4 linked regions of the Homo sapiens genome follow. The protein of the gene in region 2 interacts with the protein of the main gene of each other region in a pairwise test. Each region holds a gene or a part of one and is shown on either strand. Other genes may lie near its edges. The genes, in order: POM121, FAM168B, NEDD9 and ROR2.

Region 1 (7,026 bases), on a different chromosome or scaffold from region 2:
GCTACTCTGGAGGCTGAGGCAGGAGAATCGCTTGAACCCAGGAGGCAGAGGTTTGTTGCAGTGAGCCAAGATCGTGCTATTGCACTCCAGCCTGGGCAACAAGAGCGAAACTCTGTCTGAAAAAAAAAAAATTTACCTTTCAGAAGCTTAGGGATTTTAAACAACCATTTTCTGGTCTATCATGGAATCTGTGCTCCATAGAGATAGTATAAGGTCCCAGAAATATGAGAATACACTTTAAAGGGACAAAAAAAGTCATGTCATTTCATTGAGACTTTTTTGATTTGTCGCAGGCGCCATGATAGCAGTGGCAGTGGACATTCAGCATTTGAGCCCCTGGTGGCCAATGGAGTCCCCGCTTCTTTTGTGCCTAAGTAAGTGGGAGTCCATCCGGATGAAATACCAACTGTTTGGAAAAAGGCCTGATCAGAGCTGTTGCCCTATAGATTTTCCTCTTTGTTTTTTGCATTGCTTAATTGGTTCAGGTTCACGTCTTTGAAATTAGGAACGTTTTGAGTAACTTGCCACAGTTAACTGCCTTCTGTCTAATTCCTTTTAATGTTCTTGCATTAATATGGATGAAATATGCTGAGACTTAAGAGGTTTTATAAATATATTTAATAACCAAGCACATACACAGAAGGATTGCAAAGTTTGTGCAGTGGATAAAACAGTATGAAACCTAAATGTTAAATTTCTACATGTCAGTTTAAAAACAAATTGGAGGAAGAATTGGGTGGAAAGGAAAGTGGCTCAAAAGTATGTGTGGAAAGACTTAGGATACCTTAGGTACCTCATCTGAGTCAGCAGTGTGATGTGGCCGCCAGGAAAGCTAAAGTGCTCCTGGTCTGTGCTGTTAGAAGAAAGACTAGAATGAGGCAGGTGGATGGTATTCCTGCCTTCCGTAGTTCTGCTCACTGTCCGTGGAGCACTGTGGTCAGATCAGTGTACTGCACTGCGAGGGAGGATGTACACAAACGGAAATTCATTCCCAGTGAAGCAATGAAGATGTTAAGGAGATTTGCAACAGCCCAAAGGGGTGGTGGTGGATGTTGGGGTTTTGGAGGTATGGAAGTATTAGCCCAGAGGAGAAAAGTCTCAGGGGGAATAAAGAAATAAGTGAGGGAAGGACAATGGTCTCCAAAAAACCAAAGGACTGTCCCTTGAAAGAAGCAAAATAACTTGCTCTGTTTGACTTCAAATAGGATCCGTGGGTGAAAGAGGAAATACACTGTAATCCACTGTAAGAATAAACTGGTTCATGGTTGACGTGGGTCACTCTAGGAGAGAGTTGTCTATATTGTAACAGGTTGGATGACTGTCCTACAGAAAAGATGCGTAGGAGATTTCTGTTTCCATTGGAGGTTTAGTAAAATGATGGGTTCCTCTTAACTCTGATTTTTTTTTAATAGCTTTGTTGAGATATAATTGACATAAAATAGACCGTACTTGTTTAAAGCATGTGACATTTTGACACACATACACCTGTGGAACCATCCCACCACTAAGATAATGAACATCCTTCACCTCCAAAAGTTCCCACATGCCTGTAATCCCTCTCTTTACTTCCACCCCTGTTCCCAGGCATCCACTGATCTGTCTTCTGTCACTGTAGATAGGTATGCATTTTCCAGAATATTCTATAAATGGAAATCATACATTTAAGTTTTAAATATTTGGCTTTTCTTACTGACTTTGTCAGATAGATTTGGCCAGATTGTTAGCAGTAAAAATTAAAAGCATTATTCTCTTCCCTTCATGTTATTAAGAAAGATGTCATGACCGTGGATGAAATCGTAAAAGAATTTTGCCTTCAATAAAGCATCTAACTGTCTTCTCTTTTATTAGGCCTGGGTCTCTGAAGAGAGGCCTCAATTCTCAGAGCTCAGATGACCACTTGAATAAGAGATCCCGAAGCTCTTCCATGAGCTCCTTGACAGGCGCTTACGCAAGTGGCATCCCTAGCTCCAGCCGCAATGCCATTACCAGTTCCTACAGCTCCACTCGAGGCATCTCACAGGTACAAGTACAGCTCTTTTAATGTGGGGGACATGAATTCCCAGCGTTCATTCATTGACTAGGGCCAGACATGGTAGCTTAGCCATGTAATCCCAGCACTTTGGAAGGCCAAAGCGGGAGGATTGCTTGAGCCCAGGAGTTCAAAACCAGCCTGGGCAATATAGTGAAACCTTGTCTGTACAAAAGAATTTTTAAAGAAAATTTTTTAAATAAAGTAATTGATTAGCAAAGGTTTACTGATCACCTTCTATCTGTCAGACATTAGAATTGTCTTTAAGCTAATAGAAAATACAGATCATTGAGTGATCAATATAGGCCAGCGGAATGGAGTAGAAAGCCCAGAATGTACAGCAGTGCATGTGTGCGAGCTGATTCGAGACAGAGCTGTGTTGTAGATAAACGGACAGAGGGTGATTCGAAAGGTAGACTGAGTCCAGCTTGTATTGGGTCGTAAAAGAGATTTATCTTATAGGCGTTTAGAATTGAAAGCGGGGTTTTTAAACAAGTGGTCATGATTTTTTGGAAAAGGGATTATCGCATAGTATAGGGAACAGGGCAGGCTTTGCTGCTGGACAGACTTAGATTCAAATCTTGGCTCTGAGGCTGGGCGGGATGGCTCATGCCTGTAATCCCATCACTTTGGGAGGTCAAGGTGGGAGAACCTCTTGAGTCCAGGAGTTCAAGACTAGCCTGTGCAACAGAGCAAGACTGTGTCTCAAAGAAAAGGAAAAAAATGCTTGGCTCTGACATCTAGTAGCTATAAGGTCTTGGGCAGACAATCACATAACATCTCTTTTTCTTATCTCTGAAGTGCTGTTGCAGTGATTGAGGGTAATATTTAAAAAGCACCTATTACAGTGGCTGTCAGTAAGTGGGTACCCAGTATACAGCAGCCAGACAAAAAGATGTAAAGCATGTATGGAGAAATGTTTTTGAGAGGAGGAAGATTTTGAGACGAGTTCATCAGCCCAGAAGGCTCTGACAGTCATATAAATGAACATTAATGACCGTAATATCATTATCCCTCTTAATAATTTAAGAGGGATAATTAATATTATTTAATATCTAGTTATTATTTTTGATATGCAAACTTTTCCAGCTTTGGACTATGGGTTCCAAACTGGCTCCTGTATCCTTTATTTTGATCCCAGCAGTCTTCGACAGATAGCTTCATTGCTTTTTGCCCACCTTCCCAAAGTCCATTTTTAGCCTATACCGAAGTTGGGTGTTTCTTCAGAAAGCTTTGGTTTCTTCCAGTTAGAACTGTAGAGACTACAGTCTAAGTTTTAGGAGAGATAAGATAGACAGATCCTCTAGAAAGGGGAATATAAATAATTCATAATATTCCAAATTCAAATTTATGATAGTAGGATTTTTTATGTAATTTATTTGATTTTATATTTTTATGTATTACACCAAAAATGTCGGTTTATAATTACTTTGATCCTAGTAACACGCAATTTCTTTTTTTTTTTTTTTGCCGGAGTCTTACTCTTGTCGCCCAGGCTGGAGCACAGTGGTGCGACCTTGACTCACTGCAATCTCCGCTTCCTGAGTTCAAGCGATTCTCCTGCCTCAGCCTCCCAAGTAGTTGAGACTATAGGTGCCCGCCACCATGCCCAGCTAATTTTTGTATTTTTAGTAGAGACGAGATTTCACCATGTTGGCCAGGCTGGCATCGAACTCGTGACCTCAGGTGATCCACCCACCTTGGCCTCCCAAAGTGCTGGGATTACAGGCATGAGCCACCACGCCTGGCCCATGCAATTTCAAAATAGCGGTATCAGTGTCATTGTTAACACTGTCATTATTAAGACGGCTGAAGTCAGTTTAAGAATTGTGATTCATTTGTCTTTATATCCCTGTGTGAATGCTACGGACATGTAATCAATATATCGTGTTTTAAAGTAATGTTAATTGTCCTTTGGGTACACCAACTTTATATACAGTGAGGTTCGTTTGTTCAGTATGTTTGAAAGTTACAGGGATTTCTGTGTTTTCCTTTTTGAAATAGTTCTGTTTTAAATTATGTAAAATCTTTGAAACAATAAGTTGTTTCAAAAAAAATACACTAAAACAAGATACACTCAAAAATTCAGTTTCCATCCCTTTCCACTCTACATTTTTCCTTCCTCTCCATTTTTATTTTTTGATTATCCTTTATTGTTTTTTAAACGGTATGCATATCAGTGTATCTGAAAACCGCCACCTTCTAACATTTAAGGTAGTAGACAGTATATACAGATTTGAACCTTGCTTTTTCACATAATAGATAGTTGAGGTCATTCCATAGCAGTACACAGAAACTCATCTTTGGTCTTAAAACTGCATAGGTACTTTAGTCCTCTGTTGACAAATGTTGGGTTGTTTCAGTCTTCTGCTATCACAAATAATGCTGCAAAGAATACATTTGTTCATATGTCATTTCATCCTTGGCAATTTTGCCTCTGGAAAGTTCCTAGAAGTCAGATTCCCAGGTCAAAGGTTAAATGCGCATGTAATTTTGCTGGATATTGTTAAATCCCCCTACAGAGCATGCACCACTCAGCATTCCCCTCAGCGTTGTATGAGAGGGACCATTTCTCCATGGCCTCACCAGCAGATTTGGTTATTGTAGCTCTGGGCTTTTACCAATTTCACAGGTTAAAAATAGTATCTAAGACAGGCGTGGCAGCTCATGCCTGTAATCCCAGCACTTTGAGAGGCCGAGGAAGGCAGATCACTGGAGGTCAGGAGTTCGAGATCATCCTAGCCAACATGGTGAAATCCTGTCTCTACTAAAAACATAAAAATTAGCTGGGCATGGTGGCACATGCCTGTAATCCCAGCTACTCAGGAGGCTGAGGAAGGAGAATATCAGGAACCTGGGAGGCAGGGGTTGCAGTGAGCAGAGATAGCGCCACTCCACTCCAGCCTGGGCGACAGAGTGAGACTCTGTCTCAAAAAAAAAAAAAAAGCCAGCCGAGCTTGGTGGCTTACACCTGTAATCCCAGCACTTTGGGAGGCTGAGGCAGGTGGATCACCTGAAATCCGGAGTTTGAGACCAGCCTGGCCAACGTGGCAAAAACCGGTTGCTACTAAAAATACAAAAAATTTAGCCAGGCGTGGTCGTGTGTGCCTGTAATCCCAGTTACTTGGGAGGCTGAGGCAGGAGAACTGCTTGACCCTGAAAGGCAGAGGTCAAGTGAGCCGAGCTCACGCCACTGCCCTCCAGCCTGGACGACAGAGTGAGATTCTGTCTCAAAGAAAAAAAGGTATCTAATTTTTGTCTCTTATGAGTAGTTTGATCATCTGTTCATATGTTGAATGATTATTTTCAGTTCTGTTTCCATGAGTCTTAGTTCATATCCTTTACCCATTTTTCTGAAGGGCTACCAGCCAAATCTCATGTTCAAGAGTTTTTCCTATAGTAGAGAAACCTATTCCAAATGAAGCAAAGTTTTGAACGTAAAATAGAAACCATAGAAGTGCAGTGTTAGAAGAAACAGGCTCCTCACGCGTTGCTGGTGGGAGTGTCAGTTGGTACAGCTCTCTAGAGGGCTTTGTGACAGGAATTGTCCACATAAGAGATACATGCACCCTTTGATCAAGCAGCTTTACCTTTAGGAAGTTATCCTACACACATACTGGGAAATGGATACAAGGATTTAATGTAACATTGTTTTAATAATAGCAGCTTGGAAACAATGTACATGTTATCTTTTCAGGGAGCTGACTGAATAACTTACAGTATTGGTGTAAGTTGGAATATACTATGTAACTATGAAAAAGAATAAGGCAACTGAAGAAGTACTCATGAGAATGATCTCAAAAAGCAATTACATAAAAACAAGGCTCAGAACTGTATAGTATCCTCTATTATTCGGGCTTTTAAAAATCTTTTAATATGCATAAAATAATTCTTACAGGATATATTAAAAACTGGCAATCATTACTGAGATAAAAAGGAAATTTACTTTTTACTGTACAGTCTTTTTTTTTTTCTTTCTTTTGAGACAGAGTCTCGCACTGTCGCCCGGGCTGGAGTGCAGTGCTGTGACCTTGGCTCACTGCAACCTCCACCTCCTGGGTTCAAGCAATTCCCCAGTCTCAGCCTCCCAAGTAGCTGGGATTACAGGCACCCACCACCATGCCCGGCTAATTTTTGTATTTTTAGTAGAGATGGGTTTTCACCATGTTGGCTAGGATGGTCTCGAACTCGTGACCTCAGGTGATCCGTCCGCCTTGGCCTCCCGAAGTGCTGGGATTACAGGCGTGAGCCACCACACCTGGCCCCAAGTTGTTGTCTTTTTCTTAGAGATTTGAATACGCTCTTTATATGTTCTAGATACAAGCTGTCTGTCATGTATGTGTTGCAACAAAAAAGTGTCCTGCTCTTGCCATTCTACTTCCTTGTGGTTAGCATACTTTGTGTAGTATTCAGGAAATCTTTGCCTACCTAACCTAAGGTCATGATAATTTTCTTCTGTGCTACCTTCTAGAAGCTTTATTATTTTATTATTACTTTTATATGTAAATCCATAAACCACCTGAAATTAATTTTTGTATATGGTGTGAGGTTGGAATCAAAATTAGTTTTTTTTGTGTTTGGTGGTGTTGGTGGTTTTTGTTGTTGTTGTTGTTGTTTTTTACTGTAGAAATACCCATTTCTCTTAGCAACATTTATTGAAAGGACCATCCTTATTTCTCTGCAGCACCGTCTTTGTCTAATTTAAGTGTCTGTATATATGTGGGTCCATTTCTAGACTCTGTTTTGTTCCATTGGTCTATTTTTCTACCTACCCTTGTGCCAGTCTTTGTTTTACCCCTAGCCTTATACTTTAAGTCTTGATAGAGTCAGTCATCCCACTTTCTCATTTCTCTTCAGGACTGTCTTGTATCTTGGCCTTTTGCATTTTCATATAATTTTTAGATCAACTTGTCAATTTCCACAAAAAAAAAAAAAAGTTCTGAGATACTGATTGGGATTGCCTTTCATCTACTGATTACTTTGGATGGAATTAACAT
Region 2 (7,026 bases):
TGGTCTCAATCTCCTGACCTCGTGATCCACCTGCCTCGGCCTCCCAAAGTGCTGGGATTACAGGCGTGAGCCACTGCGCCCGGCCAAGGTGATCAGTCTTGTAGAAATGATTCAGGTTTGGGATCGCTCTGGTGCCTTGATGTAGGGAGTCTGGCCTTTCCAGCCTACCATGCCAGAAGAGGGCTAGAATAGATGCTGAAGGAGACGGTCTCTGTGTCTGCTGGGGGTTGGGGTACCCAGAAAGATCAGGAATAGGAAGAAACAGTGATTCTTAACTCCATTGCTTGGAACCCTGCAGATTCACTGTCTGGAGAGAATGAGAAAAAAGAGGCTGGTGCACCCGAGACCAGCTAAAGCAGTGTTGGGGGTCCTCCCAAAGCTGCCCCTGTGGGTTTTGTGCAGTCCAGGTAGAAACCATTGGAGATAGTGAGGGGAGCCACGCTGCGGCTTGGGTCAGAGTGGTGACAGAGCAAGTGGGATGTGGCTGATGGGATGAGGCGATGGGAGCACGGAAGCAGCAGAGGCTGTCTAGGAGATTGGGAGTCTTTGATCCCCATACCAGAGACCAGGTATGTAGTGCATCTTGTTGCTGGTGGCTAGTGATGCCATCTTAAATACTATCGTGTGTGTTTGCTGTTTCATTATAGGATGTGTTAACTTCTTGTTAGAAACTGGGGGGCCGGGCGCGGTGGCTCGTGCCTGTAATCCCAGCACTTTGGGAGGCCGGGGTGGGCGGATCACGAGGTATGTAGATCGAGACCATCCTGGCTAACATGGTGAAACCCTGTCTCTACTAAAAATACAAAAAATTAGCCGGGCACGGGCCCCTGTAGTCCTAGCCACTCAGGAGGCTGAGGTAGGAGAATGGCGTGAACCCAGGAGGCGGAGCTTGCAGTAAGCCGAGATCACGCCACTGCATTCCAGCCTGGGCGACAGAGCAAGACTCCGTCTCAAAAAAAAAAAAAGAAAGAAAGTGGGGATGGGAAGGACTAAGCAAAGAAGACAGTAGTTTTTCAGGGACCGTTAAACACAATCTTCAGCAAACAAATCCAGAGCAGCCCTCTTCCCATGAGAATATATTGGTAGAGTTTTAGGGAGAGATGAGGAATTTGGAATTTCTGGAAATTATTGCAGAGGCCTACAGGATATGATCTAGGTCAGTGGTAGTTGAAACTTTTTTTTTTTTTTTAAAAGAAGGAAACCATTGGAAAAAAAAATCTTGCTGGTTCCCTGGTCTCTGAGGGCAGTTCCAGACCTTTCTTGGTCTTCCTGTGCTCACAATTGGGCTTCTGAGGAGTCTCTCAGCATCCCCAGAACTGCTGTCCTGGTCTTTCCAGTGGCCATTGTGGGTCTCTTTGAAGTTGAATCTGCCCTTGACGTCCACCACACTCTGTTCTCTGACTAATTAGAGAGGGCAAACGGGAGGGTGAGAGTCCAGGAGGGAAACCCGGAATGGCTTCTGCTGAGGTAGAGGGGGATCAGTTTGAAGTGAGGAAAGCAACTTTGAAGCAAGGATAAAGATGAGAACTGGGCACTTGGAGGGATTCTGGGGCTAGGGCTTGGTGACACTGATGCCTCCTGTTCCCACAGAAACCTGCAAGATGGCTTAGGGATGCAGGGCAATAGAGCAAGGGATCCAGGCTGAGGGGGCCGAAGGGAGGCACGTGAGGAGCTGTATTCAGAACTTTCTGTCCCACCTACAAAGATTTTCCTTTTGGCATTCCACTCAGATCCCCCCTGTTTTTACCTCAACCTTAGGGCTTCCTTGCTTTGGTTACTGTTAGCACCATGATTTGTTCCTAAGGGATCGTAACACCTTAAAAATCCCAGTCCAAGTGCTGTAAGAGACACCTTTCTCCAGGCCTCCTCAACACAGTTTCTTTTGAAGACTGCTCTTCTCTTTCAACTTTATTTACAGGTGAAGGAAGTGTGCAGTAGAGAAGTTACAGCTTCTCACAGCTAGTGGGAACAGTAATCAAGGCTAGGAAACCTGAGTCATCTTGTTGGCTGTGTGCCCCAAATAGAAAGAACGCTTTCTGGCCAGGTGCAGTGGCTCACACCTGTAATCCCAGCACTTTGGGAGGCCGAGGAGGGCGGATTATGAGGTCAGGAGATGGAGACCATCCTGGCCAACATGGTGAAACCCCGTCTCTACTAAAAATACAAACATTAGCTGGACATGGTGGCGTGTGCCCGAAATCCCAGCTACTTGGGAGGATGAGGCAGGAGAATCGCTTGAACCAGGGAGGTAGAGGTTGCAGTGAGCCGAGATCACGCCATTGCACTCCAGCCTGGCAACAGAGCGAGACTCTGTCTCAAAAAAAAAGAGAGAATACTTTCTAATACCTCAGCTGTCACAAGTGATGCCTCCTGTACTGTGAGCCAGAGGGGTCAGCCCAAAGGGAAGGGAGGCCTTATCGAAAAGGGCAGATGCCTGAGGCCCCCTCTGTTGGTTGCACCTTGGGGCCAGGATTCTGACTGTAGCACTCAATGTCTTATTTGATGTTTCTGTTTCGTTCATATTATGAATTACTAGGTCATGGTTTAGTCTTAATAAGATTCCTCATTTGTATTAATAAAGGTCAGCTTATTTGCACGTGGACTGTAGTTGGATTTTTCCCATTTCTGTGTGTATGCATTCCCAGTTAGAGCTCCTTCTGTAAGAAGACTGAAGCTTAAGTAAGACACAGCCTGGGTTTATGACTGGTGTCTTAATTTGTTTTCTGCTGCTTTAGCAGAATATCAAGCTGGATAATGAACAGAAATTTATTAGGCTCTTGGTTCTGGAGGTTAGGGAAGTCCAAGAGCATGGCGATGGCATCTCGTGAGGGCTTTTGGGCTCTATCCTCTTGTGATGGATGGTGGAAGGGCAGCGAGTGCGTCAGAGAGAAAGGGGGCTGAACTTGTCCTTTTTATCAGGAACCCACTTTCATAATAAAGCCGTCACCTATTAAATGTCCCACCTCTCAGTGCTGTTAAAATGACAAATTTTAACGTGAGCTTTGGAGAGGACATATGAAAACATATTAGCTGGTCATGCTGGAGAAGTTGGGGATCAGAACATCAAAATATGGCAAGGCGTGGTAACTCATGCCGGTAATACCCGCACTTTGGGAGGCCGAGGCAGGTGGATCACCTGAGGTCAGGAGTTCGAGACCAGCCTGGCCAGCATGGCAAAACCCCATCTCTACTAAAAATACAAAAATTAGCTGGGCGTGGTGGTGCACGCCTGTAGTCCCAGCTACTAGGGAGACTGAGGCAGGAGAAATGCTTGAACCCAGGAGGCGGAGGTTGCAGTGAGCCGAGATCTCACCACTGCACTCCAGCGTAGGCAACAGAGCAAGACTCTGTCTTAGAAAAAAAAAAGAACATCAGAATGTGAAAAAACCTGAAATGAATTTAGAAGTTTAAAACAGTTTCTTACAACAAAAAATAATAGCTTTTAAGTCAAAATATGTAATGTAGGAAATGTCGGAATTCAGTGAAAATGAGTGACCTTTACATAGGCTTAGCTGTTCACTGGTAGCAGCAAAAATAGGCCCTTGAGTCCAAGCTAGACTTGAATTCTGATTCTTCCAGACTTTGTGCAGTGAAGTCAGATGAGGGTAACAGGACCTAGCGTGTGATACCCTTAGCACTCTTACTACTCTTGCTAAGTAATTATGTGATTAGAGTTTGGAATGAAACTTCCAGAAATGTTATAATTGAGGCTTGGCGCGGTGGCTTATGCCTGTAATCCCAGCACTTCGGGAGGCTGAGGTGGGTGGATCATGAGGTCAGGAGTTCGAGACCAGCCTGGTCACCATGGTGAAACCTTGTCTCTACTAAAAATACAAAAATTAGCTGGGCGTGGTGGTAGATGCCTGTAATCCCAGCTACTCGGAAGGCTGAGGCAGGAGAATCGCTTGAAACGGAGGTTGCAGTGAGCCGAGGTCGCGCCACTGCACTCTAGCCTGGGCAACAAGAGTGAAACTCTGTCCCCCTCCAAAAAATAAATAAAAATAAAATATATAATTGTTACCTATCAAAATTCTGAGGGAAAGCCAGGCGTGGTGGCTCACACCTATAATCCCAGCACTTTGGGAGGCCGAGGCGGGTGGATCAACTGAAATCAGGAGTTCAAGACCAGCCTGGCTAACGTGATGAAACCCCGTCTCTACTAAAAATAGAAAAATTAGCCAGGTGTGGTGACACACACCTGTAATCCCAGCTCTTCGGAAGGCTGAGGCAGGAGAATCGCTTGAACCTGGGAGGCAGAGGTTGCAGTGAGCCAAGATCATGCCATTGCACTCCAGCCTGGGCGATGAAAGTGAAACTCTGTCTCAAAAGACGACAACGATAAAAAAAACAAAGTTCTGCGGGAAGAAGACAACTAGAGACATGCTGTTGGCCACACATAGTGCTCTTGGGGCTGCTTAAGTCTGTGGAGTTCTGGGGAAGAAGGTAAGAGCGATGGCTTTGCAGGAGCTCTAGTGATTGTCGCTACTTCAGTTGATGACATGAGATTGTTCTTTATTTTTCTTCAGCTGGTTTTCCCATGGGCTATGCAGCAGCAGCTCCTGCCTATTCTCCTAACATGTATCCTGGAGCGAATCCTACCTTCCAAACAGGTATGTGCTGGGTGGTAAAATGCTTTGTACGTACAGCTGGGAGAGAAAGGTGAAGGGGTGGATTTTGAGAGGGGTGGGTATAGAATTAGGACTTGGTTGAGTCGATTTCTCAAGTTCATTAAGTTAGCCTGTTGATAAGTGCAACAAAAGCTTAATTCTTACTGCACTGAAGCTTTATATACTGTGTTTCTCATGTCCTCCCACAAGGCAAATCTGTAATCACTAGGTTGTTAACTCTGCCAGAGCATCTGTTCATGAAATAGTATCACCTACTAGAAATTGAAGAATTTCTTGCCATGCCAACAGGTGGAATTTCCATGTTAATGTTTTTAGAGATAATTTTTGGTTAGACTACTTTAGCACTCTGATAATATTTTTTAAAAAAGTATTATTTTCCATGTAATGTATAGATGAATATTTTTAGATTTTGGAAATCACTGTTAATATTAAAAGTGGAATTGGTTTGGGTCTGAATCTTGAGGAGATTGGTTATTTAGTGGGATTTCCTGCTAGGAGCCTGCACTCTCTGGTGTTGGTTCCTTTTGGACTTTTTTCACCCACACGGGGCTTTGCCTTTCTGCCGCAGCAGTGGTGGTGCACACTCTGATCTGAGGCTGTGGTTTGGCCTTAATCCTGGGACTGCTGGGGCAACTTTATCCCTCAACAGTAGCTTCACACAGTTAACTTTGACAGAGGAGGAGACAACAGCAGTGTCCTTTCCCCAGATTCTTCCTGTTTTGTTAATCATAAAATTCTGCCTTTATATTCTGTCCTTACATCCATCTCTTCGTTTCCATTTCCACTTCCACTATGACCCTATATGACCACCCTTGTTCAGACCGTAGTTCACACCCTGAGAAAAACGTTCTTGACTTGGTCTTCCTGCTCCCAAGCTTTCTTTCCCCGGGTTAGTGTTCTTCCCATTTAAACCAGAGCGATGCTCCCAGATGAATTTTTCTCAGTGGTTTCCCATGACTGTGAGACACAGTTATGCCTAGAGTCTCGACTTTCAGTCCCTAGCTGTTTGCCATATTGGCCCATTTTTTCCCTTTAGAGTGGTTTTCCTTTTGTGTTTTGCCTTGAAAGAACCATCCATCTCGTAGTGTATATTAGCAGTTCATTCCTTTTTATTGTTAGGTAGTATTTTGTTGTATGGAAATAAATACTTCAGTTTGCTTATCCATTTACCATGTGATGAACATTTGGGTTATTTGCAATTTTGGGCTATTACAAATGAAAATGCTATTAATATTTATATGCAGGTTATTGTGTGAACATACACTTTGATTTCTCTTGAGTAAATAAATACAGAGGATTTGAGTGGCTGGTTATTATGGCAAGTGTATATTTAACTTTGTGAGAAACTGCCAAACTGTCTTCCAAAGTGGTGGTACCATTTTACATTCCTACCAGCAGTGTTTGTGAGTTGTCGTTCCTCCACATCCTTAACAACACTTGGTGTGGTCAGTCTTTTTAATTCTAGCCATTCTAGTGAATGTGTAGCAGTATCTTTTCATGTGCGTATTTGCCTTCTGTATGTCTTTGGTGAAGAATTTGCTTTTACTGTATGTCAGTTATTGTTTTCTTATCGTTGAGTTTTTGAGAGTTCTTATCAGATATATGCGTGTTTTCTCCCAGTCTGTGGCTTTTTCATTCTTTTAACAACGTCTTTTAAAGAGCAGGGGTTTTAAAAGTTTAGGCTGGGCGCGGTGGCTCACGTCTGTAATCCCAGCAATTTGGGAGGCTGAGGCGGGTGGATCATGAGGTCAGGAGTTCGAGACCAGCCTGGCCAACGTGGTGAAACCCCGTCTCTACTAAAAATACAAAAATTAGCTGGGCTTGGAGGCGCACTCCGGTAATCCCGGCTACTAGGGAGGCTGAGGCAGGAGAATCACTTGAACCCAGGAGACAGAGGTTGCAGTGAGCCGAGATCGTGCCATAGCATTCCAGCCTGGGCGACAGGGTGAGACTCCGTCTCAACCAAAAAAAAAAAAGTTTGATGAGGGTTAGTCGTTTTATGGATCATGCTTTTGGTACCATACTTAATAAACCTGTGTAACTTGGCTGGGCGCAGTGGCTCACGCCTGTCGTCCCAGCACTTTGGGAGGCCGGGGTGGGTGGATCATGAGGTCAGGAGATCGAGACCATCCTGGCTAACGCGGTGAAACCCCCTCTCTACTAAAAATACAAAAAATTAGCTGGTCATGGTGGCGGGCTCCTGTAGTCCCAGCTACTCCAGAGGCTGAGGCAGGAGAATGGCCAGAACCTGGAAGGCGGAGCTTGCAGTGAGCCGAGATTGCGCCACTGCACTCCAGCCTGAGCGACAGAGCAGGACTCCGTCCCCAAAAAAAAAAACAAAAGAGAAAGAAACCTGTGTAACCTAACTTCACAAAGATTTTCTTCTTTTTTCTTGTAG
Region 3 (7,026 bases), on a different chromosome or scaffold from region 2:
TGATGAGGTACATATTGTAGAGAGAGAAGCCAGAGAAATACTTTAAAGTTGCCTTAGAGATGGTTTGATGGGTTTTACATTTGACTTGAATGAAACTCTGCGCTTCTTAGTATTTTGTGGTATTCACTGAAACAAACTGGGGCTAGGCCTGTAAGAGGAAGTTGCTTTTTGGTTAGGACCTGTTACATTAAGCTCAATATCAGTAATGATAAAATTATGGCAGTCAGTTCTATGGGGGTATTTTTGAGTAGGGCAGTTATTTTTAAGGAGAAGGAGTAGAAGAGATTAGACCACTGCTTCTCAACTAGGAGGATTTTTGTCCCCTCTGGGTACGGGCAATGTTTAGTGGCATTTTTTGGTTGTCACTGTGTGTGTGTGTGCATGTGCACATGCATGCACACGTGTGTTACTGGCATCTAGTGGGTAGAGTGGCCAGGGATGTTGCTAAACATCCTACAGTGTACAGGACAGCCCCCACCACAAAGAATGACCTGGCCCTAAGTGTCAATAGTGCCAAGGTTGAGAAACCCTGGATAGAGGAATGGACACCAGACTGAATTAGGAGGGTCTAGCTTCAGACTTCACATTTGAAGACTAATGACCATCAAATCTCTGCCTTTTGTGCCTCTGTTTCCCTGTCTGCAAAATAAATATTAATAGACATGTTCTTCTTTATAAAAATATGAGGAATCATGAGATTATTTACTCCAAATGCTCTGATTTCTTCAGGAAAAAGAGTCTCTATAAAATCAAAGCACAGTTATTATTACTGCGCCAAGATGAGCTCATGAAATTGTGTCTTAAGAACTGTACTCCTCCCCTTGGAAAAAAAAACTTCCTCTAGGAAAAAAAAACCAACAAAACAAAAAACCCAGAAATGATCTTATCATGATTACACCTGCCACACCAAAAAACAGACACACTTCAGAGAAATGAAATTCTTTCCCTTCAGCAATGAACTAAGCTGAGTCTGTAATTAAGATCTTAATAAGGGAGGCAGGAGGCTTGATTCAGGTGCTGCGGGCTATGAGGCGAGAGCGCCCATGCCAGGTTTAAAGCAAGAACAATTGGATGCAAATCCCCCGCACTGCTTAACACTCTCAGGTGTTCCAAACAAGTTCTTATTTCAAAATGGGCATGGCTTTATTTCTAAAGATGCCTATTTCTGCAAAGAAAAGGAAAGAGAGCACCTTGTTATTTACAAGTCAATGAAAAAAAAAGCACAACATCTTAGACAGTTTCCTGCAAAAGGCTGCTGTAAGGGAGATGGGATAATGCCTTCGACAGTGGATTAATCTCAGGAGCAGCCCTTGATGACAGTCTCTAGAGTGACCATGTGCTTCCGGACTCTCCCAGGCAGTCCCCAGGTTCAAATATCCTTCCCTTTGTCAGACCATATGTCCCATTTTTTTGGTTTGTAAAACATGGATACATACTCACAAAAAAGAAATATTTTTGAAACCAACAACAAAGGATGGGAATGTAAGTATATTTCTTGATTATGGATCTGCCATGGCTGAATTTCGGATTTGGGAGAAAAAGAGCTAGGCACTGATAAGAATCTTAAATTCAATCAACGTTATGTGTTCTCTAATTGACAAGGTGATGTCTGTAAGGAAATGAGATCGATTCCAGTGCCTCTGGGCCTCTGTGAGATAGCCTAGAAGTCCAGCTCCACAGTGACAGGGGTTATCAAGAGAAAGGAGGCTGTCGGGCTGCGTTCATTTCTGCTATTCCCTTCCTTGAACCCATTTAAAGGTGTGCTTGTCATGCTGGGCTCTGAGTGGAGAGGGTCAGGGAAGCGGAGATAGCACTGGACTTCTGCCCCAGGGGAGCATGCAAGGGAAAGAGGGCTCAACATTTTGCTAGGCCAATGCTGCTGTGGTAGTGCGACTGTACCACAGGTCCACGAACCCATTTCCTGCCAAACTCTCAGTCATGCCACAGTGACTAGTAACAAGAACGAAAGAACAAAAGGAAAAGAAAAAAAAAATCTCATCGACAGATGACTGATGTGTCCTGACACTGAAGACTCAGAAGTAGCTGGAGTGTCTAGAAGTCCACTTACTGCCATTTTCTGTGTGCTGGCTTTGCCTGTTATGGTTATTTTGGGAGGCGGAGGGTGTTGGGGGGCAGAAAAGCCCAGCTCATTCTTAAAGAGTCCTCTAGATGAGTCCTCAGTTAGCCTCATCTCCTGTGGGAGTGAGGCATTAAATTAAGGAAAACAAGTGGACTGTCATGAATCACTGAGATTAAGGCTAACTCATAGTTACCAAGAGATAGCACAGTGTTTCTGCCTGACCAATAAAACCTAGGAAAAACATGAATGACATATACTATCTAAATGCACAATGCCTTAAGAAGTAGACAGGAGATCTGGTTCAAATCTGAACTTTACACGTGTTTTGGTTACTGCAACTTTCTACTGGGTTTCACAGATAATTAATCCATCCACCGCCCCCCTGCCCCCCAACCACACATACACACAGTAAAAAAAGGAATTCAAATTAATTTCAAAAGGGCTATCAAATATTTTTGTTGCTTGAAATGGTTTCACTTTTACATATTTGTTGCTAAATCTTTGTTTCCTGTGGGCATAAACATAACATTTCATGTGAGGGACATTTTTAGTAACATCATATAACTATTACCTTGATATGTTAGACATATCAGGGGGAATTCTAATTCGCAAGACTGAGATTTGCAAAGAAACATGACACTTACAAATCACTGGATCCAGCCTTTGAATAAGGATCATGAACTACCTACTTAGACACCGTGTAAGCACCAGAAGCACTAGTAGTGGTTAGTGAGGGGATTAGGGAGAAAGAGACTAGCTGTTTTGTTTGTTTGTTTATTTGTTTGTTTGTTTTGTTTTTGAGACAGTCTCACTCTGTCGCCCAGGCTGGAGTGCAGTGGTGCAATCTCGGCTCACTGCAAGCTCCGCCTCCCGGGTTCAAGCCATTCTCCTGCCTTAGCCTCCCAAGTAGCTGGGATTACAGGTGACCACCACCATGCCCAGCTAATTTTTTGTATTTTTAGTAGAGACGGGGTTTCACCGTGTTAGCCATGATGGTCTGGATCTCCTGACCTCGTGATCCGCCTGCCTCGGCCTCCCAAAGTGCTGGGATTACAGGTGTGAGCCACCGCGCCCGGCCTTTTTTTTTTTTTTTTTTTAAAGAATAACTGGGATTTAATAGTCCATTGTGGGGCCCAGGAATATGTATTGGAAAACATTCCACTGGCAACTTTAATATCTCCATGACAGCTGCCTCCACTCCCTACGTCAACCATGAAAAACTGCTGTCAGCTCCACCACTATCCATATTTCTGGAGTGCCCGTTCTATCTTCCTCAAATTCACCTAGATCTCATTGTTTGGTCAAACTGTCTTCAAAGAGAGTCACCCTTTCCAATGAAGGGTACAAAAGGTTACCAACAAGGTGACTTATCTTAAAATGCAGATTGTTCAGGAAAATAATCCTTTGCAGGCTGTCATGTTCCCTAGCTGTGTGGAATCCTCATTAGCCAGCAGGAATTACTGCAGAGAGATGGCTGGAATGTTCAAAGTAAATAAGATGGAGGGGGGTGTTGTTGGCAAAGTATAAACAGGGTTTTTTTTTGTGTGTGTGTGTCCCCTTTTCATGCCCGTACTCTTTGCAACCATCTATCACCTAGGAAACCGTCAGTTACTCTCTGGCATTTTAAGTTAGAAATATAGTATTTCTTCCCAATGGCCCTGTTTCATTTGTCTTGGCGAGAAGTCCTGGTAATTCAGCCTATATGTTCTTGCAGAGTATTGCCTTGGTCCTAGTGGTTGGCATTTCAAACCAATTTGTTCAGATTTCTTTCTGACCCTAAAATGATCTAAACATAGACAACCAAGACCTCTTACTTTACATTTATGTCATTCTAATTGACTGCAATTGGATAAGAGAGTTCACCCTGAACTTCTCATGTACTCCCAACTTACATTCTTTGGATTTTATCTTTGGTTTTTTGAATTGACGACTTTCTCTTCCTCACTGATATTTCTGTTATGGGTAAACAATTCTAGTGAATGTCTCCTTTAAACACTTTTATCTATATAAAAATTCCATATCTATATATCTGTATATCTTTGTGGGTATGTGTATATAACATCATATAATAGCTGCCATTTATTAAATGCCTAATATCTGCTAGAAAGGACAATTGTCATATATTATATCCTATAACTATCTGACAAGACAGGTATTATTCTCATTTGATAAATGAGGAAAAGAAGGTTTAAAGTAGCTAGCATAAAACTATACTGTTAGAAAGTAACAAAAGTGGGATCTGAAACAAAGCCCATGTTTTTTGTTGTTGTTGTTGTTTTTTTACTATGCCATATAGTATTAAGATCCTCTTAAATGGCTATTTGTGTATACATTTTGTCTTCTATGAGCAAAGTCTTGTAATTTCAGGAATACTGAGTCCAATGAACAATAATGAAGGAATCAAGTCATTAGTATATTAGCAAGTGGGGTCATATGCTGTTAGGGCCCTATGCTTACAATACACATCCAGGCCCACAGAATACTCAACAATATTCAACCATCTCAACCTAGTAACTGGGATTTTGACATAATTCTGTCACCAAGTCTTGAGTACATACCATCCTTTCAACATCTATTGAGCATCTACCATACAAAGAGAGCTGGAGCCAGCTTGCATTGTCTGCTTACTATATGCCAAGAGCCATAGTAAGTACTTCATTCATATATTATCCCAGGTCTTCGAATAGTATGAGGCAGTTATTCTTATCCCTATTTTACAGACAATGCTGTAAAATGAGGCTTAGAGAGCTTAACTTGCCTAAGGTCCAGAGCTATAAGCCATAAGGAACAGAAATGCCTTTCTTCAAAGCCCATGCTCTATCATGTCTCTAACACAAGAGCATAAAACACCAAGTCTTGGCCCCCTCAAAACTTCACAGACCCTAGATCATGTTTTTTATTCAAGGACTTTTCGATCAATCTGCCTCTACATACAAATAGAGGGTGGGTCTCTCATATTCAGTGGGGTTTACTTAAAACTAAACAGGCCCAGTAGGCAACCTATCTGAGTTACAGGTATCCTTTAGATAACGATTTGATTGAAAGAGGTCAATAAGTAAGGTAGTGCTAACAGAGTAGGGCAGAGGTGAAAAGCATAACAGCCTATTTTAGGGATTATAGGATGGTCCAGGAGACACAGGTTTCAGAGTTTGATTGTTTAAACAGAGTGGATGGATGAGGAGACTTTACTAGCGGGACTGACAGGCCACTCAAGTCATGTAAACGCAAACAGAGAGGCAGATGAATGGGGGCAGTGAGGGACCAAGATTTCCCATAGCAGAGTCTAAGGAGAAGGAAAAATGAGGGCTACAGAATGTGCATTAAAAGTGTCACATCTGTGTGTGGGAGGCAAGGGGGCGGCAGTAGATAGGTGCGGGTGGGGGGCTGGGGAGTAGGGGGTTGGAAGTAAGATCTACGGAAGTCAGTATTAAAGAAGCGTAAGGAAAGCCTGAAAAGAAGAAGAAGAAGATAAAAGGAGAACCAATGAGGTCATAAAAGCACGAAAGTGGGAGAGAATTTGCAAAAAGGCCGGGTGCGGTGGCTCACACCTGTAATCCCAGCACTTTGGGAGGCTGAGGCAGGTGGATCACCTGAGGTCAAGAGTTCGAGACCAGCCTGACCAACACAGTGAAACCCATCTCTACTAAAAATACAAAACTTATCCAGGCATGGTGGTGGGCACCTGTAATCCCAGCTACTCAGGAGGCCGAGACAGGAGAATCACTTGAACCCAGGAGGCAGAGGTCGCAGTGAGCTGAGGTGGCACCACTGCACTCCAGCCTGGGCGACAGAGTGAGACTTGATCTCAAAAAAAGAAAAAAAGAAAAGTGGAGAGGAAGGTGTTTTTTTCAGAAGACTGGAGTGAAGGGAGAGACAGGGAACCACTGAATTCTGAGAACAGGGACTGACGTGTATCCCAGCAAGGAAAGGATGCTAAAGGAATCCTTGGCATGTTACGCACTGTACAACTTGCTAAATTTGGTATTATCAGGCACCTTCAGTACTCTAAAGGCTTTTATCTCTGTGTAGGTAAGCCATTTAGCTCTGCAAATGGGTTTACTAAATAAATAAATAAATGCATAAATACATAAATAACCAAGTTGATATTTTTCAAAGCATGTTTTAGTGATTTTAAATCCATAGATCTCATACAAGGTTTAAAAAGGAAAAGGACAGGAGTCCTACATTTGGATTGGTTGCAAAAATCATACAGAGAAAAATAAAGCATTTTAAACCAAAATATCAAAGCAAGGAAATAATTGGGAATTTAATAGCTTATGCATGACCATATTGACTAAATTAAAGATCCTCTGTCATTATTTTCCTCGGTCTTGCTTGAGGAAATACGAATACTTTCAAAGTCCTTTCCAAAGCGTTTCACGGCACACAGGTTCTCCTTTCCCTGACCTACCCCATTCAACCAGAACACAGGACTCTGACTTTCAGAATGCACCTTTCTTAATGGCATTGTAAGTTCCGTCTGTAATTTTTCTTCAGTCAAAACGTTAAAGAATGAATTTGTTGCATGGTAGACGAGATAAATAATTTAGAATTTTAATGTAGGCACGTAAGGGCTCAGAAATTTGGCAAAGCCACAAAAGCGTCTCTGCTCAGCCATTAGCAGCCAGGCCAAGGGGCCGCTGAGCCCCCGCCCGGGCTGGGCCTGAGGTGGGCGGGGCCTCGGGCCTGGCAGGCACAAACGGGGTGGGGTCTCGGGGGCTTCTGCTCAAACACAGCTGCGCAGAGACCCTTCCATCACCCTCCTGGGAAACAGCACAACCATACACCTCCAGACCCTCAGGAGGGAGCCTTCACTGGGTAAGCAAACCAAGGCCATCGAGGCAATCACCTAACCCCGCCAGCCCCCGCCCAATTAAGAACATGCTCTGTATATGAAGGGGATTTTGTAGAAAATTCTTAATAAATGAAGCCCCCGTAATTTACTA
Region 4 (7,026 bases), on a different chromosome or scaffold from region 2:
GATTACAGGTTGTGAGCCACCGCACTGGGAGATAATGTTAATGGAGAAACAAAATGTCAAAGTGAATATCCCAGGACCATCCATACATGGGAAAAGGGCTGATGGAAGGGGGTGGGCCAAAACGCAAACAAGTCACTACTGGGTGGTAACATTAGGGGTGATCTGACATTACTCTTCAGACTTTTCTATATTTTAAAATGTCTTGTAATGGTCAGATGTTACTTTCATAACAACCAATAACTTGCGTTATTTATTTATTTATTTTTGAGACAGGGTCTCACTCTGCTGTCCATGCTGGAGTGCAGTGTCACAATCTTGGCTCACTGCAACCTCCGCTTCCCAGGCTCAAGTGATTCTCCTGCCTCAGTCTCTTGAGTAGCTGGGATTACAGGCATGTGCCACCGCACCTGGCTAATTTTTGTATTTTTATGGGGTTTCACCATGTTGACCAGGCTGGTCTTGAACTCCTGACCTCAAGTGATCTGCCCACCTCGGCCTCCCAAAGTGCTGGGATTATAGGCATCAGCCACTACGCGTGGCCCAACAGCTTTATTTAAAATGGTCACTGTGGTAAGATCAGGGGTCTCTGGTCGCCACCGTACAGAGGCACACCCCAACCCAGGTCAGGACAGAACGCCCTCATCACAAGGTTCACTCAACAATCAACACATTAAAAAAAGAGAGAGAGAATACATACTACACGAGGGTACGTCACACAGTTCCATGCGTACGTTTTTATTCTGCGTAAAGCACCAGGGGCCCTCCATCTGGCCTCCGGGGTTCCGGCAGTAGGCGTGCCCCCCTCCAAGCTCAGGGAAGTCTGTGCTGGACAGGTGGTGGCTGTGGGGGTGCTGCAGGGCCCACGGCTGGCACTGGTGGCCTGACTTGGTGGTGCTTGCCGTTCCTCTGTAATCCATGCCTGAGCCGTTATAGCACTGATGGTCTGAACAAGGAAAACACGTTAGGAAAACCTCCGGGGTACAACAAAACCATTCTGCCTACACATGCCCAAACTAGAATTTCCAAAAGATCCAAGGATTTTACATAACTTACCAGAAAAGAGGCATTAAAAGTAATGGCTTAATGAAGTCCCAAGCCCACAAATTAAATGCAGGGCACATCAGGGATAGGCATGGGGAAGGAAACTTGTCTAAAGTTATTCCACAGCCCCAGAACCATCTCTTGGGACCCACGAGGCACCTGCACACCACCACCCCACCAGAATGGGGATGTCTCCCCAGCCTCAGGATCAACTTGCTCTAGGAAGAAAGCCAACTGTGCAAGCAAGAAGGGCCTGGCCCCTCCATCTCAGGACACCCTGCTCAGCCATGGGTGAGAACAGTGCAGGCCACGCCACCTCCATGGAGGAACCCTGGGGTTGGGGTGTGCATTTGGTGAACATTTCTGTAGTGTTTACCATGTGTGGGGCGCTGCTCTAAACCCTCCTGGCTGGGGCACCGTGGCTAACAAGGCGGGTGGATCACTTGAGGTCAGGAGTTCAAGACCAGCCTGGCCAACATGGTGAAACTCCGTCCCTGCTAAAAATACAAAAATTAGCCAGATGTGGTAACGCACGCCTGTAGTCCCAGCTACTCAGGAGGCTGAGGCAGGGGAATCGCTCGAACCTGAGAGGTGGAGGTTGCAGTGAGCCAAGATTATGCCACTGCACTCCAGCCTCAGTGACAGAGTGAGACTCTGTCTCAAAAAAACAAAACAAACAAAAAAACCACCTTCCTAAATATTGCCTCATTTGACCTTCATTTCAGCCCCACGGGTTAGTACTGGTGTCATCCCCACGGAATATAAGGATATGAGAGCTTAGCAACTTGTCCAGGGTCACAATGAGGGTCTGAATGCAGGCAACGGGCCCAAGGACCAGGCCCTGGCTGGTCCTGGTAAGGAGTCCTGGCCATTCCTGGACCCCCAGATTAGCCAACGATGCTAAATACAGCCCCGGAGCTGTGGCGGAGGTGGCCCGTTCCCTAGGTCTCACTCCTCAGGGAGGCAACAACCCGTATGGATGCAGTGATGTCAGCCAATGGTTTTCCTCGGAGACATAAGCAGCGCTCCCTGTCCTGTGTCTGCCATCCTGACTGGCCATGGCCACCCTGCTGGGGCTCACAACTTGGGGTTTACTAAGCCTCCAGAGGGCAGGGGCTGCTGCCAGCAAGAGGGGCAGTGGGGAGCATGCTCTTCGTCCTGTGCAGACCCCAAACAGGCCACACCCAGGCCCCGGGCTCAGAACTGTCCCCCTCCCCCACGCTCATCCCTTAGGCCCCACGATTCAGGGACCTGTAGAAAGGTGCACGGTGCTTCCCTGTATTTCCTTCCCTAGTGATGCCTGATTGTTACAGGTTCTTCTCAGGTGCCCTCCCAGGCCAGTCCTGCAGCATCTCCGTGGGCCTCACATTCATCCAAGGCTAAGGATCCTACAGGTTTCTGGGGACTGATCCTCCAGGTTTCAGGAGGTTGGGGCAGGAGTTGAGAGTCTGCATTTTCGCCTGGCGGCCCGAGTGCGTGCTGACCGTCGGGCAAGTTAGGAAGCTGGCCCTGTCTCCTCTCATGCCCGCAACAGCCATTTCCACAGGAAGTGAGATCACTCCCATTTCAGAGAAGGGAAATCCCAGGCTCAAGCAGGTGGAGGGACTTCACCTGAGTCCCACAGCTGGACACAGTGCAAGCCCACATGCGAGCCTGGGGCTGAATGGCTCCAAAGCCCCTGATCCGAGGCCCCGCCTGCTGCCCTGCTGGAATGGAGGCCTAGGCTGTGGGGCCCTCGGCTGCTAAGGGGGTTCTGTGGGGCCTGGACAGATGGGGCTCCCTGGGCTTCACCGACACCCCCATACACATTTCAAGGGCCCTACACTCCCTGCGCCCCCCGGTCCCGCCCCGGGCCCTCGGGCACTCACAGCGGCCCAGCCTCTCGGCTGGGATGCCAATGCGCATGCAGTTGGCAGCGTCGGGGCTCTCAGGCATGGGCAGCGCCTCACACTTGGGCAGCTGAAGCCGCATGAGGATGAGCGGGTTGGAGCGGGCGATGGTGTACTCCTGGCGGCACAGGTCGCTCTCCAGCACCTCGCACTCGTCGCGGCACAGCTCACGCGGCTTGGGTGTCCGGGAGCGCGCGTCGCACAGAGGAAACACGAAGTGGCAGAAGGATGGGATGGCGAACTGTGAGCACTGGTCCGACAGGTGCGTAGACGTGCCGATCATGGTGAAGGCCGCTGCAGAGCCCGCGAGACTCGCGTTAGCGGGGGACCCACCTTGCGCCCTTGACATTCATCCAGTCCCCACCCCCAGCCTGGCATCCCAGACTGCCCACTCAGCCCCCTGATGCCCCGCCCCGCCCCAGACTCCCCAACCCCGAGCCCCGCACACCACCCTGGAGAGGCTCCCCACCAGCAGGCCAGCCTGCCCATCACCTGCTCTGATTTGCAGCAGTCACAGAAAAGTCCCTGGTCCCAGGGCCTCACTTAGAAACATCAGAAGCAGAACAAGAAAGAAGGAAAACTCGGCCCCCTAGCTCACTCCGCTAGGTGCTTCTTCCAGGACAAGAGGGTTCAGACTTCAGATGCAAAAGCAGATCCTAAGGACCCGCCATGTGTGGAGAGCGCAGGCCAAGAAGTGCAGTACCGAGCCCCAGGCTTCCCAATGTCCCAGATCTGTCTGGGGAGAAGGCTGTCCCGGAAGAGGGAGTCAGCTCAGCTCTGTGAACTGCAGCTGGAGGAGACAGTTGGTAAAATGCGGAAAGCCAAGAGGGTGAGAGCAGCAAAGTGGGAGGAGAGCCGCGTTACAACTCTGGAAGGTTCTGTGATAAGGGGGAGCAGAAAAACCCGAAGATCCAGAGCCCCCTTTGGTAGGGCGGTTTGTTTTTTAAGGGCAAGATGTCAGAGGATGCAGTTTGGTGGTTAGAAGATGGGGTGAGTTCGGGAACAAAGTGGGGGTGTTGGGGAGAGATCTGCTGCACCTGGGGTGCATGGCTGGACACTGGTAAGGGTGAAGAAGCTGGCCAAGGCAGGGCTCTAAGGAATGCATCAGCCTGCCCTGGGCTCACTACCCCATTTTCACCTGTGAAAGGCTGGCTTACAACAATTGAGCTTGGGGACAGTGGAGGCAGACAGGCCCCTTTGCCTGCACACCCAGCAGAGGCTGTGTCCTCCAGCGTGGCAGAAAACCCAGAAGCTGGCATTTAGTCCCTGAGGAGCCCTAACTCCACCCACGAATGCAGTTCAATCCCATCATTACAGATTTGGCGATTATTTGGTGATTATACAGAGGGCTGTCAAGAATGCTGGCCTTGACCTCCAGGCAAGGAAAGCGTGTAAGTGCTGTGCCAGGTTTGGCCAGCAGGTGGCAGTGCCGCTGTCAGTCATTCCCTGGGAACCCACCCAGGAACGGGATGGGCAGCTGTGTGGGAACAGCCTTGTGCGTGATCACTTTGTGGTATCACTCATGCCTTTCCGGGCCTGTTTCTGTACCTGAAGAGTGATTTGAGACCCCACACTGGGGAATGAGAGTGCACACAGAGCCTATAAAGTGGCCCTCAGCGTGAATGGGCCCAGGGGTCTGGTAAAAGGCGGCGTCAGTGGGCGGGAGCAGCCACGCTGTCCTGATTGTGTGCAGGCACTACTGTGCTCATCACATCACCTCCCCTCCTCTGGGTTCCTGTGGCCGATATTTAAATGGAGGAACAGAGAGGGCAAGCAGTTACAGTACAGGATGTCTTGGATTTGGAGGAAGAACTGAGGCTTCAACCCTGTTCAATCCCATCATTACAGATTTGGGATTATATGGATGGCTGTCAAAAATGTAGGTAGGCCTTGACCTCCAGGCAGGGAAAGATTGTCTAAGAATGCCAAAGCTGTCACTTCTCTTGGGCTAATCCACTGATAGGATGTCTCTGCTGATCTTTATAGGATTTCTCTTTCTCCTTCTCCTCACCCTGAGAATGTACTGCTTATTTCTGAAAGTGCAATTCTAGGCACAAAGAGATCCAACAACTCACATCCTGTTATCTGTCCACACCCTGAATGTCACACAACACTTTCCAACACAACACTGCACACAACGCAGTCATTACTATGCTTATTTCAAAACCACAAGTCTGTTGAGAGCAACTTCAAATTTACTGTTTTCAAAAAGCCACCCACCTAGAAAATCTTCATTCTAAACTCTTCTCTAAAAGATGCTATAAAACCAGGCTGCTTGGATGCAAGCTGATTCCTTAAACAACTCCTGAAGAGATAACTGAGGGACAATCTTGTGCCCTGGATCAGTGCTTGCCAATTAGTAGGGTGTCTAATTAATTCTGAGAGTCTGCAGCTAGCATTTTAAAAGATGGTAAGAACAGACTAGAGGATGTCAGAATGCACGGTTCCTACTAAGGGCTCTAACTTTTTTTTTTTTTTTTTTTTTTTTTTTTTTTTTTTTTGAGACAGAGTCTTGCTCTGTCTCTGGGGCTGGAGTGCAGTGGCGCGATCTGCAACTTCCACCTCTCGGGTTTAAGTGATTCTTCTGCCTCAGCCTCCCAAGTAGCTGGGATTACAGGCACCCGCCACCATGCCCAGCTAATTTTTTGTGTTTTTAGTAGAGATGGGGTTTCACCATGTTGGTCAGGCTGGTCTTGAACTCCTGACCTCGTGATTTGCCCGCCTCAGCCTCCGAAAGTGCTAGGATTACAGGCGTGAGCCACCGTGCCCGGCCACTTTTTTATTTAATGAAATAAAACTGAAAAGAAAAATCCAAGTGCACCGCTTTTACGAAGGGTGAAAGTTATTCCCTGTAACCTATGTCAGTTGTGTGAAATACATGTATGTGTACACTAAGTCATGGCGTAAAGTATATTCTCTATTTTCCACTGTGTGTTTCGGTAAAAACCTTTGAGAAGTCCTACTTTAATGGCAAAGAAAGCTTTTGCAGTGAGAGGTAGCCATATTTTCAAAACCATCTCCCGCTGGAACAGGATGGCATCTCCAGGTTCCTCTCTGTCTCATGATGGCTCTTTCAGTTTGCACAGGACCCCCTGGCCCTGTCCTCAGAGGTCTCTGTACCAGCACATGGGCCAGGCAGTCTCTTCTGTGACCGTGAATGTGATGTTCGACTCTCTAGTCCGAGGGTGACCTGAACTTAGAAGGGCTTGTCAGTGACATGAGGTGACTTTCTGCCTTGGATCCTCATTGTCACCCCTTAACAGGTCAGTGCCCTGTATCCCCTTTGCCCCACCACACTCTCCCAGGAGCGCAGGCATCAGAGATCACCCACTGACTCTAATCTGCAGCAGAGCCTCCCGCTCCCATGGAGAGGATCCAACTAAACTGAGGTGCTGGGGCACCGGCCATCTGCACAGGATGTGTCTTGCTCCTTATGGGATCTGGAGAGAAAATGTGTATGTGTTTGTGGAGAGAGTAGAGACAGCAGGAGGAGGGCTCTGTAGGACTATTGTCTAATTAATTTTCTTCCTTTCCAAGGCCTTTCCCCTAAGAAGGACCCCGGACCCCATCAATGTGTTCGAGTTGTATGCTGGGAACTGGGACAGCCAATCAGAGAAGTTAAGTCCTAATGAGACCAAGGATGAGCAGCTGCAGTTCCTAATTGACTTGCCACTTTCTCAGACCCTGAACCAGGTACCCAAAGACGTGGCTTTGTTCTCTGGAAACCCAGGACTGACAAAGTGTGTGTTCACTGCAGCATCCCTACCACTGATGACCCGCGACTCTTTCCCCAAAACAGCTGCAATCAGGCCTGGGTGCCTTTGGACCAAACGTGGCTCAGAGAGGATAGAAGAGTCAGGAAGTACAGAATGAGAAGTCAAGCAGAGTGAGTGTGGGGGCGCTGAGGCTATCTGCGCCAGTGTGGCAGGCCCGGGGCAGGAGGCCCTGGCGTTGCAGTGAGGACAGTGCTTTGGACCCACACGGTTTGGCTGAGTTAAAAGTGCAGAAGTATATTCCAAGCAACCCACACTTGCTAATTTAAACATACAGGCCAGGAACATTTTTAGGGCAAATCATGTTAGCAATTGCCACTACT

What was found.
Region 1: the proteins of FAM168B (region 2) and POM121 interact in binary tests that used the Homo sapiens proteins (3 or more experiments, as listed by UniProt).
Region 3: the proteins of FAM168B (region 2) and NEDD9 interact in binary tests that used the Homo sapiens proteins (3 or more experiments, as listed by UniProt).
Region 4: the proteins of FAM168B (region 2) and ROR2 interact in binary tests that used the Homo sapiens proteins (3 or more experiments, as listed by UniProt).

Annotation. Positions count from the first base shown.
Region 1 is NC_000007.14:72,928,092-72,935,117, forward strand, and holds part of POM121 (nuclear envelope pore membrane protein POM 121), read left to right. Parts: intron 1-293; coding exon 294-374; intron 375-1,848; coding exon 1,849-2,020; intron 2,021-7,026. UniProt on the Homo sapiens protein: Essential component of the nuclear pore complex (NPC). The repeat-containing domain may be involved in anchoring components of the pore complex to the pore membrane. When overexpressed in cells induces the formation of cytoplasmic annulate lamellae (AL).
Region 2 is NC_000002.12:131,069,439-131,076,464, reverse strand, and holds part of FAM168B (myelin-associated neurite-outgrowth inhibitor), read left to right. Parts: intron 1-95; exon of another isoform or gene 96-4,443; intron 4,444-4,526; coding exon 4,527-4,610; intron 4,611-7,026. UniProt on the Homo sapiens protein: Inhibitor of neuronal axonal outgrowth. Acts as a negative regulator of CDC42 and STAT3 and a positive regulator of STMN2. Positive regulator of CDC27.
Region 3 is NC_000006.12:11,222,643-11,229,668, forward strand, and holds part of NEDD9 (enhancer of filamentation 1), read right to left. Parts: intron 1-7,026. UniProt on the Homo sapiens protein: Scaffolding protein which plays a central coordinating role for tyrosine-kinase-based signaling related to cell adhesion. As a focal adhesion protein, plays a role in embryonic fibroblast migration.
Region 4 is NC_000009.12:91,730,213-91,737,238, forward strand, and holds part of ROR2 (tyrosine-protein kinase transmembrane receptor ROR2 isoform 1 precursor), read right to left. Parts: intron 3,225-7,026; coding exon 2,910-3,224; intron 944-2,909; coding exon 698-943; intron 1-697. UniProt on the Homo sapiens protein: Tyrosine-protein kinase receptor which may be involved in the early formation of the chondrocytes. It seems to be required for cartilage and growth plate development. Phosphorylates YWHAB, leading to induction of osteogenesis and bone formation.